Linked DNA regions of Homo sapiens: all the other regions are linked to region 2. The links come from fine-mapping of genetic effects on gene expression. A gene starts in region 2. Each other region holds a variant in brackets. All regions are shown on one strand. Distances are between the middles of the regions.

Region 1 (6,426 bases), 380 kb after region 2:
AAGTTTCTCATAATTGCTCCACCAACTGAATTCAGCTATTCCCGGGAATAGCATTCACAGTAGGTCACTGAAGACTAGCGCAACATCATTTGCTTATAATCAGCATAAGCTCCTCTACTCTTGTAGTCAGCATCATTCTTAGTGTTCATGTAGTGCTTCAAATTAAAGTGAAAAGTAGAATAGTACTGTTTTTGTGAACCGTTGTCTTTTCATCAAGAAGCATTTTTTTCCTTAACCTTCATTCCAATTTGTTCCTCATGCTTTCTCCAAGCTCCTGGGAATGTTTTCACTGTAATCTTGAAATACACCTCCTTTTCAAAGGCTCTTAATGGCTTAATTTTTTTTCAAAGTACTCAATAATACCAAAGTTAGGTAACTATTTCTCCACTAAGCACTCAAATAGTGGGACCAGAAAAGAGATTTATTTCATTATTCAGAAGTTGCACTTGGAAAAAAAAAAAGAAACTTAAACGTATTGTTTCTGTGAAGGCATATAAACCATATCCTAGGGCAGTGGTTTTCTAACAGTGTAACAAGAACCTTTGAAGGATGTTTGGCAGTGGAGGGGGGCAGTGAGTAGGCAGCACTTTGTGCCCCATTGCCCTCCATCCCCAATTCAACTACAACAATTTCACATGTATAGATAATGCAGGATGTTTCATAAGCTGGGCTTTTGTGCAGTATTTCATTTGAAGGAAGGGTTCCACTGCTAACAAATTTTTAAAGGAAAGGAAGAATTAGAAAGCCATTGTGTTAGGGATTATGTAATGTACTGGATTATTATTTCTCACAGGCTCTGAGGGCTTTCTTTCTGGAAAAGGTGCCATTGACCCTCTGATTTAGATGACTCACTCTCGGCCGGGCGCGGTGGCTCACGCCTGTAATCCCAGCACTTTGGGAGGCCGAGGCGGGCGGATCACGAGGTCAGGAGATCGAGACCATCCTGGGTAACACGGTGAAACCCCGTCTCTACTAAAAAAATACAAAAAATTAGCCGGGCGAGGTGGCGGGCGCCTGTAGTCCCAGCTACTCCGGAGGCTGAGGCAGGAGAATGGCGTGAACTCCAGGGGGCGGAGCCTGCAGTGAGCCGAGATTGCGCCACTGCACTCCAGCCTGGACGACAGCGAGACTCCGTCTCAAAAAAAAATAAAATAAAATAAAATAAAATAAAATAAAATAGATGACTCACTCTCCCTTGACAGAAGAAAACAAGGCATTAGGTGTTCCTAAAACTAAGAGAAGCAGGCTTTCTCATTACAATTCTTAAACATACCATTAAGTTTATATAGAATTTGGGGGGTAGGAATGGCCTTGGAAATTATTTTCACCAACCTTTTTGTTTTACAGAAGAGAAAACAAAGATTCAAAGAGGTTCAATGCTTTGCCCAAGGTCACACCGTTACAGTGCAAAGCCAGCACTTCTGACTTCCACTTCAGGGCTCTTAGTTGATGTTTCATCCCTGTTTCTTATAGCTGTTTTATCTCTGTTCAATTTGATTTTTTTAAACTGTAATTCAGGAGCAAGTGTATCATTTATGTAAGGTACTCTGTCTTCTCCTACCCTTGGCACCTCACCATCCAAGGGAGGTATAATAGACAAACTTTTCTCAAAGATACCTTGATCAGAAAGGCTGAGTTAACTCCCAGGAGAAAGTGGAAACATATGACTCACAAATCAGCACCTGCCAGGGAAATTTCTTCTATCAAGAAGTTAATTCAGTATCTGCAATTAATCTCTTTCCAGTACCTCAAGAATGTTTCACAGGTTTAGAAATGGAGATCAGTCATCCTATCAGTTTAGGCTGTGAATAAATTCTTATTGCTACATGGAGATTGGACCAAAGGAGGTCGTACATACTTTTCTGAGTCCCTTCAAACAAGAATTCAGAATTGATTCAATTGTGGATGTAGAAATATTGGCCAACCCAACCATTCAAAAACAAGTAGAGATGGGAGGGGAGCGTAGCTGGGGAAGTAGTTATTTCTCTGTAGTAAAAACACTGGGCCGGGCACAGTGGTTCATGCCTATAATTCCAGCACTTTGGGAGGCCAGGGCGGGTTTATTGCTTGAGCCCAGGAGTTCAAAACCAGCATGTGCAATGTAGCAAGACCCTGTCTCTACAAAAAAAAAAAAAATACAAAAATTAGCCAGGTGTGGCGGCGCATGCCTGTGGTCCCAGCTACTCAGGAGGCTGAAATGAGAGGATTACTTGAGCCCAGGAGGTTGAGGCTGCAGTGAGCTGTGATCGTACCAGTGCATTCCAGTCTGGCCAATGAGCAAGACCCTGTCTCAAAAGAAAATCAAAAAATAAAAACAACCAAAATGGATTTAGTGTCAGAAAACCTGGGGTTTAACCAACACCCTTAAGGAAGTCTGTTAGTCTCTCTAAGAATCAATTTCTGCATTTGTGACATAAGGATAACACCCCAAAACTTGTAGAGAAAATCAAAATGAGATGAGATATATGGAAGCCCTTTGTAAACTGTAACAAACTATAAAGTCAGTAAGTGTATTGTCCTATCCTTTCAATGACCCTGGGAGGTGGTAAGACAGATATTACCCCATGTTGTCAGAGAGGTTAAGTGATTAACAAGCATACAGTGTTAGAGACTTTCTAAGCCATCATTGTTTACAAGGTAGAAACAAGGTTTAGAGAGGTTAAGTGATTTTTCTCTAAGTCAAAAAGCTTGTTAACGTCAGAGCCTAGAATCCTTGACCTTTCAGTACATTATTCTTTTCACGTTGACTTACATGATCTGAAGAAAGGTTAGCCAGCTAATGCTATAGGTTATTACGTAACTAACACTAGGGTTCCGCTGGCATTTCTCTTGACTTTTTAAATCACATATTTATCTTCTGATCCTGTGTAGCCCGTAGTTAGTGGCACACAGGAGAATGAGAATGGTGTATTTATATTTCTAGAAGGACATGAGAATTTTACACCTAGTAGTTTTAATAAATAGCCTTAGATGATTGTCTCGTACCTACTTACAATGTGGCCGCATAATAAAGCATAGCATCTCCTAAAGCCAGCAAATGGTTGTCCGTCCTAATAGAAATTTACACATAAATCTTATTCATAAAATTGCTAATAGCACTTTGTCCTATGCATTCTAAACATTATAAATCATTCTTATTTGATGATAAACCACATCTTTGACCAAAATTTCAGCATTTGTTTTTGTTTGTTATACTTTTCTCTAAATGAACAACACTTCCAAAAGAAAATATAGCAAAAGGGCATTTAAACAGATTTCTAAAGCAAAAAAGTATTTAAATTGGTCCTCTGCAGTTGAGGCTTTTCTTTACTACTGTGGCTTAATATTTATGTTAAATGCTAAATGTGAGACTGCACAGGGTTTTCAGGAATGCTCTGAAAAGTGCAGAAATCATGATCATAAAAATTTTGAGCTCAGAAAAAATTCTGATCTAAATGTTAGGCGGTTTGATAATGACAGTGAGGATCTTGTTTATTGACTCCTGTAGCTCCTCCATGGAAGCATGCTCGAGGCCCTGTCAAGTTGGATTTCACGATCATCGTAGAAACCAGATCAGGTGAATGGCAGATTTAGGAGTTAGCAAATGGAAATGAATGAGAGTATGCATCTTTTCCATTAACCCACACAATTTTCAGGATTAGCAAATCACTGTTGGTAAACCATGTTGGAATCCTTGGATAGCAGATACTAGATAATTTTGATGGAGGAGTATTGCTGGTAATGGAAGCTTAATATAATCTGCAGTAAC[G/T]CCAGGGAATGGTCCACATTTGGATGTACTTTAGATTCCTCCCAAGCGTTTTATTGGCTTTGGTCACAGAATAATCCTCAAACCCATCTGGAAGATGAGAAACCAGGGCCTGCAAACTATTTTATAAGCTCCATCCTGTCACTTAGGTGTCTTTGCAAGCCTTTGCAGTACTCACCAGGCACAGACAAAGGCTGGTCTTTCCTTACCCAAATAAGAGATGAGAAAGAAAAAGGAAGGGAAAAAAAGAAGAAAGAAAGGGAAGAGGGAAGAAGGAAGAAAAAGAAGCATACAGTCCACCTTTCTTTGTCTCATTTGCCTAGAAAAGTATAGTATGTTTTTTTTCTCCTAGGCATATATTTAAATGGTAGATAGATATATCAGTCACACAATCAAATGATAGATGGATGGTTGCTAAAGTATTTCTGAAGGTTTTAATCAGCCAGTATCTTGTTTTACTAAAGACCAGCTAAAAACTGTATTTGTTGACTGCTCTTTGACCAGTTACATTGACCCTGTGACAGACCATATGATCAAAGATTTCTATAGTTTCATTCACTATCATCTAATTAGAAAGAACTCTAGCCATCAGTTAAAAGGGAGGGAAAAGTCAAACACATTCATAGCCCTCTTACCTCAGCCCAATATAAGAAACCTAGTTCCGTGTCAGGGAACTGATCTTATTCCCTCATGTGTAAGATCCTGTTTAGCAGATTACTTCACCAGCCCATAATGAAAGCAACCTGCCTGGCACTTTCTCAGGAGAACTTTCCCCTCTTGACTACAAACAGTTCCTGCCATGACCGTTGTCAAATCAGTCGGGGCCTCCCTGGAGTGTGCTTCCATGGAAGGATTATGCAAGCTCTCTCCACATCTGTGCCAATCCTACCACTGAACCCATGGATGACTTTAGTCAAGCCTATGCCGAAGCCAGAAATTTCCTATCCTGAGCAATTTCTAACAGCTGAGCTCAGCTGCTTTTAGTTTCAGTTTTTATTTGGTACCTTTTCACTCTATTGATAGCAAACTATACTAAGAATAATTTTTTTTTCTTATATGGAATGTGTTACATCATTGGAAATCATTTACTGTCAACCTTTTTAATGCATTGATAAATTTCCTTCGCTATTCTTTTATATTTAAACCAGGCACAGAATAATCTCCCACCATCTCACCCCCACCCATGGCCCCACTCTGGCCCTCCTCTGACCATGACCCTCCCATGAGGTGAGGTGTCTATGGGGCCAAAGGGCCTTTAAAGCCTGTTTTTAGATCATGCTCCTGGTACCTGGGATCCCCAACTATTCTCATCAAATGACCCCAAGCCTGCTTCCAAATCCTGCGTGGGCCTCTTTCCTAAGTCCATCTTCCTAGGACAGACTGGCCAATTGTGTGAGCACCCCAAGGTGCTCAGAGGGTGGGCAGAGGGTAACTGTTGTTTATGATGGAGCGATGGAGTGTGGATGTCAGCACTGGGTGTCCACACACATGCATTTGAGGTACCTCATGGGGTGGGCCAGAGCCAACTATGAAAAGAGAAGGGTATGGGCTATGGGCCAGGGGCCATTACTGTCCATGTGACCATGTTCTAGCACAGAACTTCCAGGAACCCAAGTATTTGAAATTTGGCCCTGGCTTTCCAGGTTATTATAACGTATATTTTATCAAAGTGGGAGGACAGAACATGTTTTATTTAACAGTTGGTAGCCTGATGTATATCTTTTACATATTTAGACATAATATATGGGCCTCCATTTATTCCCTCCTGGGGATAACTGTTAGGTCTTCACCCCTAGCCACATCTCTCCCCCAGGACACAAGTTCAGCATATCTATAATGGGACTCATCTTCCCTAGGAAACCCTTCTTCTCACTTCCTATTTTTGCATAACAATTTCAACCAAATTTTTTCTGTTTCTTTCCATTTAAAACACAGCAGTTTCAGTTATGTTATGGATTGTTGTTTGTCAGCTAGCATGGACTAACCACCATTTATCCCATGATTGTTGAGGGGGAAAAATGCATTCCAGCTTCAAACAGCTTATTTGTAGGAGAATGTAGCCCACATGCAAGGGAAAAGCTTCTTATTGCCCCAACTTGATTGCAAACTCTCTTACAGCATTTGTGCAATAAACATGCTAGGCACTCTCTTAGATTCTAGAAATTCAAAGAGAAATAAGCTGTGGCCTCACCTTCAAATAACTCACCATTTTAAAAGGAACATACATGAAAAGAAATAACTGCATTGCTCTACAACACAAGAGTATGTGTAACTCAAAGTTGGAGGGAACTACCTCACCCCAATTATAGTTTACCTCAGACCCCAGACTTTTTTTCCAGACTCTGTGAAAAGGTTGCACTTGACTCCCAGCTCTAGCCTTTCTCAGTAGACAAGAGTTTCTCATGTACATAGTGAGATTAGAGAATTAAACACACTTCTGTCTCACTGCATTTCTTTATGGCCATATGTTGAGCAACTTTGGACAATAATGGTCCAAAGAGTTGAACATTAAAGATCTAATGACTGTTCTTTTGTGGAGAAAAGTTTATAACTTTCTGGTTCTCTTGCATGTAGTATGACATCGTTGGACACTCTGGAGATGGCTACAACATTGGTCTGGTTCCAATGAACAAAATCCCCAAGGACAATAAGCAAAGACTAGAAATTCTGAAGGTAAATAT
Region 2 (6,426 bases):
CTGTAATCATGCCACTGCACTCCAGCCTGGGTGACAGAGCCAGATCCTGTCTCAAAAAAATGGAAAAAAGAGCAATAAGAGGTCAGTCTTGGAGTACCAAAGAACCAGTGACTTTTGTGTTTTTTTTGTTTTTTTGTTTGTTTTTTGTTTTGAAACAGAGTTTTACTCTTGTTGCCCAAGTTGGAGTGCAATGGCACGATCTCAGGTCACTGCAATCTCTGCCTCCTGAGTTCAAGCGATTCTCCTGCCTCAGCCTCCCGAGTAGCTGGGATTACAGGTGCACATCACCGCACCCAGCTAATTTTTTGTATTTTTAGTAGAAATGGGGTTTCTCCATGTTAGCTAGGCTGGTCTCGAACTCCTGACCTCAGGTGATCCGCCCGCCTCGGCCTCCCAAAGTGTTGGGATTACAGGCGTGAGCCACTGCACCTGGCTGTGATTTTCCTTTTTCCCTCCCTCTCTATAAAGAACAGTTGTACAGCTTCATGACTGAAATGTGTGGCACATGGGTGATCTCCTATAGGTATTACTAAAGATGAATATTCTTGGGCCCTTTCAGACCTATTGACTCAGAATCTCTGGGTGCAGGGAGGAACGAAACCCTATAATCTGCATTTTAATAAGTTCTCCAGGTAATTAGGATGCACACAAAAGTCTGGGAACCAGTGGTATGAACCTTTGATTTCTTAGCTGGGGTAGACAGTAGGGAGGAGTGGAGCACCCACCTTTTTTCAGTCAGACATAGCATGGAAGGATTATTAGTTGCATTTTTCATCAAGTTACATTAATGTGGTATGTAAAAAATATTCCTCCCAAACTCTGGAAAGAGCTTGACAGTCAATACTAGCTTTTGGTAGTGTGATTTTCTTTTTTCTTTTTTTTTTTTTTTTTGAGACAGAGTCTCACTCTGTTGCCCGGGCTGGAATGCACTGGTGCGATCTCAGCTCACTGCAACCTCTGCTTCCCGGGTTCAAGCGATTCTCCTGCCCCTGCCTCCCGAGTAGCTGGGATTACAGGCACCCACCATCACGCCTGGCTAATTTTTGTATTTTTAGTAGAGATGGGGTATTGCCATGTTGGCCAGGCTGGTCTCAACTCCTGACCTCAGGTGATCCACCCATCTCAGCCTCCCAAAGTGCTGGGATTATAGGTTTGAGCCACTGTGCCCGGCTGGTAGCTTGTTTTTTAATAAGCATGTGATCAGATATTTTAGTGAGAGTTTGAGAGACTTTACACAGATTGTGATGAACATCTTTTAAAACAAAACACCTTTGGTTCTTCTTTAAAAACATTGTGAAGGTCCATTCTTTCCCATTCAGTCTCATTGCCATCAGCACTGTTCATCATTTCAAGTAGAGACTATTTTTACTGCCACGTAGCTAGCACTTGATGCTTCCTGTCTTCCTAATTCAATTCATAGTATGTCACCACCTAAAACACGATCAAAAAGTCCAGTAGCTGCCCAGTTTGCTCATCGGATGAAGTCCAACTTCATCCAGCTACTCAAGATTCTTCACTCTGTAACCTTCTCCTCCTGCTCTGCCAACACCTTCTACTACTTTCGAAAGATTAACCTCCTCATCTGGCTGGTCTCATGGCCCCTGTAACTGAACTCTGTCAGGACTCCAAGCCTCTACTTAGGCTCTATACCCCGCTTCTCTGTGTATCCAGTCCTAAATGGCATTCAAAGTTAAGCTCAGGTGCTGCCTTTTCTCAGGCTCAAAGTTTTCCTCCCCATTGTAGCTTTGTCACTCTAAAAAACCTTCACCATTTTTCCATTTCCTGGAGGTTAATGTGCAAACTCCTTCTCTTGGCATACAACATGGCCCCAGATTCTCTTTCTGGTCTTATTCTTACAAACTGTTGTATATACTTGACCTCTAGACACACTGAATCACTCTCTGGTTCTCAATCATGCCCTGCACTTTCAGCTGTTTCTTTCTCTCTCTCTCTGTACATGATCTGTCTGCCAGATTTGACTTGTCTCAGCCTGACAAACTCTTGTATAATATATCCTACATGAATCATTTCAAACACTACCTTCTCTGTGAAGACTCCAGGTGCAGCAATCCACTCCACAGTATGTTGAACCTAAATCTCTTGACACGTGTCTCACTGTATTGCAATTCTTTATTTGCATATTTATCATCAATACCTAATGTGAGCCCATTGATTCACAGTATCTAGCAGGGTACTGTTTATACAGCAGTTACTCAATAAATGTTGTCGTTGGGAGGCTGAGGCAGGAGGATCACTTGAGGCCAGGAGCTTGAGACCAGCCTGGGCAACATAACAAGACTCCACTGCTACGAAAACAAAAACACAAAAATTAGCCAGGCACAGTGGTGCACGCCTGTAGTCTCAGCTACTAGGGAGGCTGAAGCAGGAGGATCACTCGAGCCCAGGAGTTCGAGGTTGCAATGAGCTATAATACTGCCGCTGCACCCCAGCCTGGGCAACAGAGTGAGACTTTGTCTCTAAAAAAAATAAAACTAGGCAAAAAATGTTGTTGAATGCTCTAACTTGTGTTGATCTCTCCATTGTCTTAACTCCAAGAGCTCTTAGTGCTTATATCAACCACTTTGCAAAATTGCCTTAGGTTGTTCTCCCATTCTTTCAGGTGTCTACTGAGTTCCAGCGAGATTAAATGGAGATATCTTGACCAAGGTATTCAATTCTTCTAGCCTCAGTTTCTTCATCTGTAAAACGGAGGATAATAATAGTACCTCAAAGCATTTTTATGTGAAATGGGATAATTCATTAAAATCTTGATACATACAATGTGCTCAAAGTAGGAAAAGCATTTTATAAGCTTACATCCTAAATTTATGTCTTAGGGTTGCTATGAGGATTAAATGAGAAGATACACATGAAACGAAGTCATAATATATTGTGTAACTACTTATTACCTTTATTTTCACTGTCTCCTCATCTAGGTTAGAAGCCTGGTTCAGCCTTCATTCCTCAAGTTCTTCCGCTGGATGCCCAAAGCCTTCCTTACCTAGCCTTGTTTGACTTTTACAGTCTCCACTCTAACACTCTCTTCTCAGCACTCATCACAGGGTCAGGCGCAGGGTAGGTGCTATGTATTTAGACAGTGGCAGCTCTAGAATTAGCAAGGTCTTTAGCTGAAAGTGAGGTCTTCTGCCTTCTTTTTGATGTTTGCTTGTATAACTTGTCTCAAATATTTTGCCTTAGTCAATTCACTGTGACATTTTGGGGATGCAGTCTAATTACATTAGGCTTAGTTTGCTTTGTGGTAGGACCATTTCCGATGTTGGAATGTACAAGAGGGAGGCAGCCTTAGCCAGTGTCCTACTTTTTCCTTTACTAAAGACATAAATCATCTTTATATAACTTTTGTATTACAGCATGACTAGAAAAGTGCTTGATCTGGATCCTTTCTGATATTTAAGCAATTTCCATCTATCACTAAGATGTGAATTTTTTCCTTAGAATTTAGGAAGCGGTAATAAAACACAGAAACAAACAACCACCACCAAAAGGACAAAGGGTAAAGCTTTCACGTACGGTTTGGAAACACTAGTGTGGTTACAATGAATCAAGACAGTTGTGAAAGTTCCCATCATCTTGTGCATGTTTTCTCCATTTCCGAAATCTGAAGCCGAATACAGGGAAAGCTCCCTATACTTACTGGGCCTTTAACTAAGAAACGAAGACTTGGGGCAAGCATCTGAAGAGTCACACCGACAAATGCTCCTAAAACCCTTGGCATTTACTGAACTCCTGAGATTCTGTGGGATCGCAGGGAAACGGCGGGTGAAGGCCTGGTGCATCCAGGTGAACAGACAGTCTCACGGACTGCGAGGCGCTTGCCAGAGCCCAGCGCCGCAGCTCGGAGCACCCCCGCGGTGCGGGCAGTCCCGGGACGGTGCCGGCTCTTTGGGCTGGAGCTCCGCAGGCTCTTTCCGCCCGTCTGGGCCATGCAGGGCCGGGTAGGGCCGGGCTGAGTCTACTGAGCCGGCCGCGCCGCGGGGGAAGGAGTTTCCGGCGGACTCGGCTAGGTGCCGCTTCCTGTCCCCTTCTCCGCGCTGCCTCACGGTGCCTGCACGGGACGCCGCTCGATCCCCGAGCCCCCTCGCCGTCCCCGACAGCCCCCCCGGCGCCATGCAATCCCGGCTTCTACTCCTCGGGGCACCCGGAGGCCACGGCGGCCCGGCCTCGCGGCGCATGCGGCTGCTCCTGCGGCAGGTGGTGCAGCGCAGGCCGGGTGGCGACAGGCAGCGGCCGGAGGTCAGACTGTTGCACGCCGGCTCGGGGGCCGACACAGGTAACTCGGGGTGCGCCCCTGTCCTCCCTGGTGCCCCTGCGCTCCGTGCCGGGTCCCCGCGCGCCCCCGCCCCTCCTCTCTGTTGCTTCGCTGCGCTTGGAAGGACCGTTTGCCGAGCGGGGAGCTGAAAGATTGAGGTTCTAGTCCCGACCTCGGCGCTAACTGCTGTGTAACGTGGGGGCAAGGCGCTCGCCCTCTCTGTGCCTGATTCTGCAACCCGAGGGGTCTGGACTAAGGTTTCTGATGACCTAGAAGAGTGATTTCTCCTTCCCCTGCCGCTGCCTTTACCCCCAGAATTCTGACTTAGGTTATAATACTCGTAGAGGTTAATGCCTCAGCCCTATGGAATTATTGAAAGCTGGATTTGACCTTGCTCTCTGAGCCTCAAGGGCCTGGAAGCCGGTCTGTGTCATGTTCTAGCCAGGGCTTGTGGCGGCTTAGAAGGGAACATTCTTGCCAAAGAACCCATAGTTCACGGTGTTTTAAATGCATCCCCGAGCCTTTCCAAGTTTTACAGGAGTTTTCCTTAAAGTTTCACGTAATTCTTAGAGCTGACAGTTACACCTTAATTTAGTTAAAACACTTGCCTCTACAAATGAGGTAATTGAAACCCAGAAGGGAAAAGTGATTCGCTGGAGAACACACAACTAATTACTATGCTAGAATCACATGCTTTGATTTCTAAGCTCAGTATTTTTTGGCTCTACTTGAGCTGGTTTTAGGAATTCTTTTTCTTGTGTGTTGGTGGAGTTAGAGTTACTGTGATGGTTAAGGAAAGGATATCTGTTGTTGCTACCCTTGAATGGTGAAGTGATTCCAGACAAGATTTTGTCAATGTCAGTGCTGCTTGGAATAACAGGTTTTCACTATGAAATTGTAGGTTTCGTTGTCCTCTTGCATTTTCCCCGCAACCCCCAGTTTTCCTTGCTAAGAAATGAGCATATGGGCCGGGCGCGGTGGCTCACGCCTGTAATCCCAGCACTTTGGGAGGCTGAGGCGGGCGGATCACGGGGTCAGGAGATCGAGACCATCCTGGCTAACACGGTGAAACCCCCGTGTCTACTAAAAAGAAAATACAGAAAAATTAGCCGGGCGTGGTGGCGGGCGCCAGTAATCCCAGCTACTCCGGAGGCTGAGGCAGAAGAATGGCGTGAACCCGGGAGGCGGAGCTTGGAGTGACCGGAGCCACTGCACTCCGGCCTGGGCGACAGAGCAAGACTCCATCTCAAAAAAAAAAAAAAAAAAAGCATATTTAGGTCCCACGTATTTCGTTTTATTCATTGAAGACATACACCACCCCCGTCCCCCACCATAGTGTTGCAATTTCAAATTTTACTTTTTGTTTTTTTTTTTTTTTTTGCTTTTTCTCAATTACTCTCACTTCTGGGCTGTTTATTCATTTGTTTTTTACATTTTTTGTGTGTTCTTTATTTGTTTTTTGCTCCTTTGCCCTAGAAGGCAGAGGTCAAAGGTGGAAGTATAGCATAAACTATAGGTTGGGTTTTGGAGTTAAACAATTTGGGTTGGAATCCACTTATCCACTATCTAACCATGGGTCGTTGAGGGTAGGTTACTTAACTTTGTGTCCTAGTTTTCTTAACTGTAAAAGGATAAGAAGAATATATCTATTATGGTTGTTGTGAGGATTTATTAATTAATATAATCTGTGGCACATATTAATGCTCAATAAAAGTTAGCTTTTTTATTCTTAGTATGTACAGTTTTAGCTATTTGAGAATTATTCTGTTTCCTTGCCTTTAGAAGACATGAAACCAAGTTTGTTTAGATTCAGGACTGTTCAGACTATCTGGGTAGGCAGATTTAGCCGAGTGAATTGACTTGAACTTTTTAAAAAACAATTGTTCTTTGTACATGGATAATACATGTTGATTGTAAAAACACATGTGGGTGTGAGTTTTTAAAGTCTGTATTATATACGTATTGGTAGATAAGTTGTAAATGTCCTCAAATTTTGTTATAGCCAGTAAATCAAAGTATAGGCTTTGCTTCAAATGTGAGAGTCATGGACATATTACAGAGAACATACTATCTTCTTTAAATCAGTCATTTACTCTGGCAGGATCAGACCAAAAAGAGGTATTTTTTGAGGGTGTGAGAACTGTAACTGAATGCAG
Region 3 (6,426 bases), 25 kb before region 2:
GGGGTGGCTGTGTTGGACCTTTTGATGAATGGCCAACCTATTTTTCCAAAGTAGTTGTACCATTTTGCATTCTACCAGTGATGTAAGAAAGTTCTAATTTCTCCACATTCTAGCCAAGACTTGTTACTGTCTTTTTTTTTTTTTTTTTTTGATGGAGTTTCACTCTTGTTGCCCAGGCTGGAGTACAGTGGCACGATCTCGGCTCACTGCAACCTCCACCTCCCGGGTCAAGCAATTCTCCTGCCTCAGCCTCCTGAGTAGCTGGGATTAGAGGCGCCTGCCACCACACCCAGCTAATTTTTTGTATTTTTAGTAGGGATGGGGTTTCGCCACGTTGGGCAGGCTGATCTCAAACTCCTGACCTCAGGTGATCCTCCCACCTTGTCCTCCCAAAGTGCTGGGATTACAGGCAGGAGCCACCGCGCCCGGCCTGTCATCTTTTTTATTATAGCCATTCTACTAATATAAAGTGGTATCTCAATATGGCTTTGATTTACATTTCCCTAATGACTAATGATGTTGAGTGTCTTTTCATGTTTATTGACCTTAGGTCTTTTTTTTGTTTCGGAGAAATGTCAATTCAAGTTCTTTGTCCATTTTTAAATTGGATTTTTTTTTAACCTTAAGTTGTAAGAACTCTTCCTATATTCTGGATGCAAGTATCTTAGTGGACATGGGATTTACAAATATATTCTCCCATCATGTTGGTTGTCTTTTCACTTTCTTACACGTATATTTTAAAGCAAGAATTGAGTATAACTTTACACATCACATTTAAGAGTATCATCATTCATGAATTAGGTGAGGTGGAGAAAAAGTTGAAAGCCATAAAAAATGGCTGATGAGAGTGTCAGTGTTTAACCTGGAAAGGAGAAAAATAAGGAGATATGTACCTCAATATTTAAATATAAAGCACTGCCATGCAGAACAGAGAAGGCATGATATGAGTGACTCCAAAAGGGAAAACTGGTACCAAATGGAAGTTCTAGAGCAGATTTGGATTCAAATTAAGTGATTTTCTTAATCTTAGAGTTTTTTTTTTTTTTAATGAAAGTGAGCTTTCATAAGAGCTCTCTACAATAGAAGCATTCAAGCAAAAACTAAATGCAAAAACCAAATTATATATCTCAACAATGTGGCTGGAGAGAATCTGCACTCTATAGGAAGTTAAACTAGACAATCTCCTGATTTTCCTTCTGTCTAAATTCTTTTTTTTTTTTTTCTTGAGATGAGGTCTCCCTCTGTTGCCCAGGCTAGAGTGCAGTGGTATGATCTCTTCTCACTACAACCTCCACCTCCCAGGTTCAAGCAATTCTCCTGCTTCAGCCTCCCGAGTAGCTGGGATTACAGGCACCCGCCACCATGCCTGGCTAATTGTTGTATTTTTAGAGACGGGGTTTTACCCTGTTGGCCAGGCTGGTCTCAAACTCCTGACCTCAAATGATCCACCCGCCTCGCCGCCCAAAGAGCTGGGATTACAGGCATGAGCCACTACGCCTGGCCCTTCTGTCTAAATTCTATGCTTCTATTACATTACACATTTTCAAAAAAGATAGCGTTGGTCAATATACAAAGTTTTTTTTCACTTAATCAAGCTGTTAGAATTTTGAATAGTCATGTTAAGTTATATTAAAAAGTAACTATTTCAAGGGAAAAAATTGGTAGAAACCATTCTAGAAATACTGCTCTAAACTAACAAAGTATAAAGGTTTTAGTATCCCAGTAAAAACAATGTTACATAACTAATAATGAAGCATTTCATAGTACAACTGTTCCTATCATGTGTTAATAAATAACTCAAACAAAAATAAACATGAATCTTGCCCATTTAACTTCAATTTTTCTCTTTCAGCTATAGAGGTTAGATCCAAATATCTTCATAGAGCAATATTACTCCATTCTCCTTCTGTGGTTATGGCAGGTAGAAGGAAATTGCTAAATTGTTCACACAGCATAATAGCCAGAGAATACAATTTCTAGAAAACATTGGTTAAACTATTTCCTGGCCCATGGTACAGAGAATAAAAGAAAAATTCCTTCAGACACAGAGCTTAATGTAAAGAGCTTGAAGCACAAAAAAAGGCCAGTAAAATCATTGTTCATTTCCCTTAGAAAATATACAAAGCCTAGAAATAAAGTCCAAGAGAAAATTGAACATGAAAAAGAAATCCAAGGATAATTATTCTTACTACTATAAAGCTGGCTTAGCAATAACCACTCAGTCACTTGCTCAGGGCAGCTGAGAATTTACACCAGATGAAGGAATAATAAGGAATTTTGGCTGGGCATGGCAGCTCATGTGTGTAATCCCAGCACTTTGGGAGGCCGAGGCAGGTGGATCACCTGAGGTCAGGTGTTTGAGACCAGCCTGGCCAACATGTTGAAACCCCATCTCTACTAAAAATAAAAAAAATTAGCCGGGCTTAGTGGCAGGCACCTGTAATCCCAGCTACTTGGGAGGCTGAGGCAGGAGAATTGCTTGAACTTGGGAGGCAGAGGTTGCGGTGAGCCAAGATCGCACCATTGCACTCCAGCCTGGGTGACAGAGTGAGAGTCTGTCTCAAAAAAAAAATAAATAAAATACAAAGTAAGGATTTCTGACTATTTTATTCTTATGGGAAGCATTGACTGGTTGAAACAAAAGCAAAAATTAGTAAGTGTTTTAAATTTATTTTCATTTTTGCATAAGAAATATCTGGGGACAGGAAAAAATAAAAATTAAGGGACTCAATAAGAAAGAAAAGAAGATCCAAAAACAGAGTGTGAGCTACTACAGATCATTTCCATGGCTTAGAAGGAGATTCACCATGTATGTTAAAATGCACAACAAAAATAGAAATAGTAAGATGAAGTCAGAAAGAAAAGTTGTCATAATCATGCAAAGTAATTAAAAATAACAGACAAATGCAGCAGTACTCATTACAAATTGATCAGAGGGGAAAAAAAA[AT/T]TTTAAAAAAATACTTACATGTAAGAAAATATTTGTTGTAGGAAATATTGATTTGGAGGAGAAAGCCCAGATAGTAGAAGAAGAGTTACATGAATCAGAAAAGAGCGCAGGCCGGGCGCGGTGGCTCACACCTGTAATCCCAGCACTTTGGGAGGCCAAGGTGGGCGGATCCTCTGGGAGTGACCACTCCTAACCTCTCTCCTTGCCTGCCTCCTTTTGGCAGGGTGTGTCATCAGTTGGGTCCTCAGGGAAGCAGACGTAGGAAGTTGAGAGTGCAAAAGATTTACTGGAGAATAAGACCTCTTATTCCCACCTCTTATCCCACCTCCAGTGGGAATAAAAGGGAAGAGCTGGGATTGGCTAGGAGAGCCATCTTACTGAGATGCAGACCTAACAAAGTCTCTTCTGCCCAGCAGGAACTCCAGATCAAAGCTTGTCTTGAGAGGAGCCCACCTTTGGGCAGAAAGGGCTAGACCCTTGGACCACAGTCTTTCTTAGTCATGGGCTAAGGCTACCTAGAGAAGAGAAGGAAGTGCATGACCTTGACTCAAAAGCTGAGGTGGACCTGCAGAACTGAATAGTTGGAGGTTGTCAGCTAACCATATTCCTCGTAGCTGGGCATGAGTCTTCCTTAGCTGGAGTTCTGAATGCTACACATTCCCATGTCTGCCACACAGTTCAATGCCTCTAGGTATTCACTCCAAATCATCAGACATGCCTCAGCATCACTTTGCCCCACCATTTCAGCCAAACTGACCCCCGACCCAAAAGAAGAAAGTCTGAGGCCTGATTTTTGTATCCTCAAGTCTTCCTCCAATACTGACCTCTCCCTCTCCCCACGATGACTCACCATGAGAATGTCCATGCCATTCAGAGGAAACCCTAATGCCACCCACAGAGGGTGCATGGCCTACAGCCCTCATAAAACAATTACACAAAATTCTAATACTGATATATTCCTCAAACATGAGTTGTTCTGTTTTGAGAAGTACCACATGTGGCATATCAACAGCTAATCCAAAGGGCAGTCTGCCAAACTCAGTAAAGATGCTTATCAGTCTCTTCTTTTCAAAGGGGTCATAACCTAGTTGCATCCAGTGATGCCTTATTAGATGTAAATGGGCTTTGAGAGTCCCTTTCTATGTCAATGCAAGAAATTATCCATATAGTGCCAAATATTTATGGGTGTATGAAAACATTCTTGACTGAATTTCTCACTTTTCTTTTAAATAGAACTATCATGTACTTTCAAATAGTGAGTAATCAGCAGGAACAAGCCAAAGTTTAAAGAAGAGAGCATTTAAAGCACTTCCTGATTTTCTTCTTCATAGTGTATATATTTAATATGGTTAGTACTGGGCTCAAAGACAGATTTTTTTCCCGAAAAGTTAATTGTAAGACATTTGTTTGGAACTCAGTCCATATTCCCATTGAAATAATGACACTTTACTTTTCTGGGTGAAGGTAAAGTTCAAGTACCTGGAACTGTAAGAAGTTACCTTTTCTTCTACTATAAAATATACTTAGAGATATAATGCATAGCAACACATTTTTAAGTAAACGGATTATTCACCTCCCTTCACAATACTATTCAACATGGTTACTTAAAATATAAAAAAGACCCAACAATGGAAACAGAAGCTGTCATAAAGGAGGAGGGGACCAAGGGCTTGGAGGATGGATATGAAAAATAAGGCTGAATAAGTTTCCCCACTTCTCATTTTCAATTTTGATTTTTCTGTTTTTCACCATTTCTTAGTTTCCCCAGTCCCTCTCAATTGCCTTACAAGCACACAACCAGGCTGGCGGACATGGTGGAAAGAGCAGTAATGAAAATTTCCCTGCTTTTTTCTCTTCCTCTTTCCTCGTTTCTTCCAGTTCCATCTCTCCTCTCCATTTTTTCCTCTGTTATTTCCCTCTATCCTCTCTCCCTCTTTTCTCTCAAATGCCTTTTCTATTCTTCCCTGAGCCATATGCCCCATCATTCCTTATGTGATATTGTTTTGGTCTTTAAATTCCTCCCTAGTTTCTTAAATTCCCCCCATCCCATGGCCATTGCCTGGATTCAGGCTCTCACAATCTCTCACCTGCAGCCCAAATGTTTCTCTCTGCCTGTACCCTTATGCCTCCCATCCATTCTCCATGCTATAAGTAAGATAAATCTAATCATGTTACTCTCCTAATTGAGGAACCCAATATTTGGGGGGATTAAATTTAAATTCCCTTTATTTGGCTCCTATCTCCTTTCGAGCCTCATCTCTTTGCCAGCCCTCCATCCATTCCATCTGACTGATTCCTTCCTAGATCTTCAGCCTGGGTTGAGGTCTCCTTCAGCGTTCCCTCAGCATATAGCTTTAACTTAGCATTTTTAGTAACTTTCTTCCATTTCTCTAGACTCTGAGCACCTTGAAAGCAGACATTAAATCTTTTTTCTGTAGCACAATTCTGCAGAATTAGGAAGTCCACTCCCTTACCAGTTTTGGGCACAGTGACAAGTAGAGAGAGTCCCTGCTAGAACGAGGCAGGAACTGACCAGGAGTGATGAGGGGTAAGAAACAAGAGCACATGTGAAAGAGATGTGCCGTTCTGGGTAGCAGAGGCTCTGCATTAGCACAAGGGAGAGGGATCCCAAGTCAGGAGGAAAATTCTTAGCCGATGCAAAAAAGGGACACTTTTACAGCAGCATCATTAGAGCTCAGGCAAGAGAAATGAGCTAAGCTGGGCACAACTAAACCAGGAACTTTCTATACGCTTGTTTAATATATCACAACATAAACAAAAACAAATACTAAAAATCAGTGTCATGGTTCTAATGCTTTAGTTTTGTGAGTGCCATTAGAAATGACTGCTAAATATATAATTTGCTCTAAAAAATCTTGGCAATTCAATTTTTGTGAAGGAAACTTCATCTAATACTTGGCTAATTTAAATATATTTTATATATAATATATACATATGTATATATCATATATGTAATGATATACATATACTATGTATATATTATATATATATGATGTACATTCTGAAACAAATCCTGCCGAATAATGGTTAACAAGCAGTATAAATTAAGAATCCCTTTTACATTGGGAGGGCTGCCTTCAATCTACAAAGCCTTTCCTCCCAGCTAACCCAGCTAACCCAGAAGAACAGGGGTAGAGAAGAGGGAGACCATGCTGTTTTGAACATACCATGTTTGAAAGACCTGTAGAAGAACCAGATAGAGCTGCTAATTCAAGAGTTGGAAATACAAGACTAAGAGCAAAGAACTTGAACTTGGAGGTCTTCCTCTTAGAGATGGCAACTAAAGCTGCAAGAGCAAGAGAAATGAAGTGGTAGGAGAGAAAAGACCAAATCTTGTCCTTAAAAATAACGCTTTTGACAAGAGCAACAAAATTAACCTCAGATCCTTGGTAACACGAATGCTTGCCTAAACATTTTTCTTCATTAGGAGTTGAAGGTGACCATGCATACACTATGT

Which allele goes with the higher level. Alleles are on the strand shown, and positions count from the first base shown. SD is a standard deviation of normalised expression in the study named. Not every link is listed here.
In carriers of allele AT in region 3, the expression in monocytes after interferon gamma of the gene that starts at base 4,035 in region 2 tends to be higher than with T alone (moderate effect, 0.64 SD a copy in Fairfax 2014).

The links. PIP is the estimated chance that this variant, and not a neighbour inherited with it, causes the effect.
Region 1: its variant is the best candidate, but not a certain one, in a credible set for the expression of VWA8 in whole blood (INTERVAL, PIP 0.73).
Region 3: its variant is the best candidate, but not a certain one, in a credible set for the expression of VWA8 in monocytes after interferon gamma (Fairfax 2014, PIP 0.56).

Annotation. Positions count from the first base shown.
Region 1 is chr13:41,575,732-41,582,157 of GRCh38, reverse strand. VWA8 (von Willebrand factor A domain containing 8) reads left to right here. Exons shown (of 45, transcript NM_015058.2): 43 at 6,320-6,418. Among named protein-coding and RNA genes, the nearest start is that of MIR5006, 11 kb to the right of the region's middle. The variant G/T (reference allele first, on the strand shown) is at 3,749.
Region 2 is chr13:41,958,718-41,965,143 of GRCh38, reverse strand. It overlaps VWA8 (von Willebrand factor A domain containing 8), which reads left to right and starts at 4,035. Exons shown (of 45, transcript NM_015058.2): 1 at 4,035-4,291. The coding sequence starts at 4,129. It overlaps VWA8-AS1 (VWA8 antisense RNA 1), which reads right to left and starts at 3,975. Exons shown (of 4, transcript NR_039974.1): 1 at 2,910-3,975. RefSeq lists a silencer at 3,956-4,365 and enhancers at 4,566-4,705, 4,801-5,301, 5,302-5,802.
Region 3 is chr13:41,983,797-41,990,222 of GRCh38, reverse strand. All of the region lies in intron 2 of LOC105370176 (a long non-coding RNA gene), which reads left to right. Among named protein-coding and RNA genes, the nearest start is that of VWA8-AS1, 26 kb to the right of the region's middle. The variant AT/T (reference allele first, on the strand shown) is at 2,948.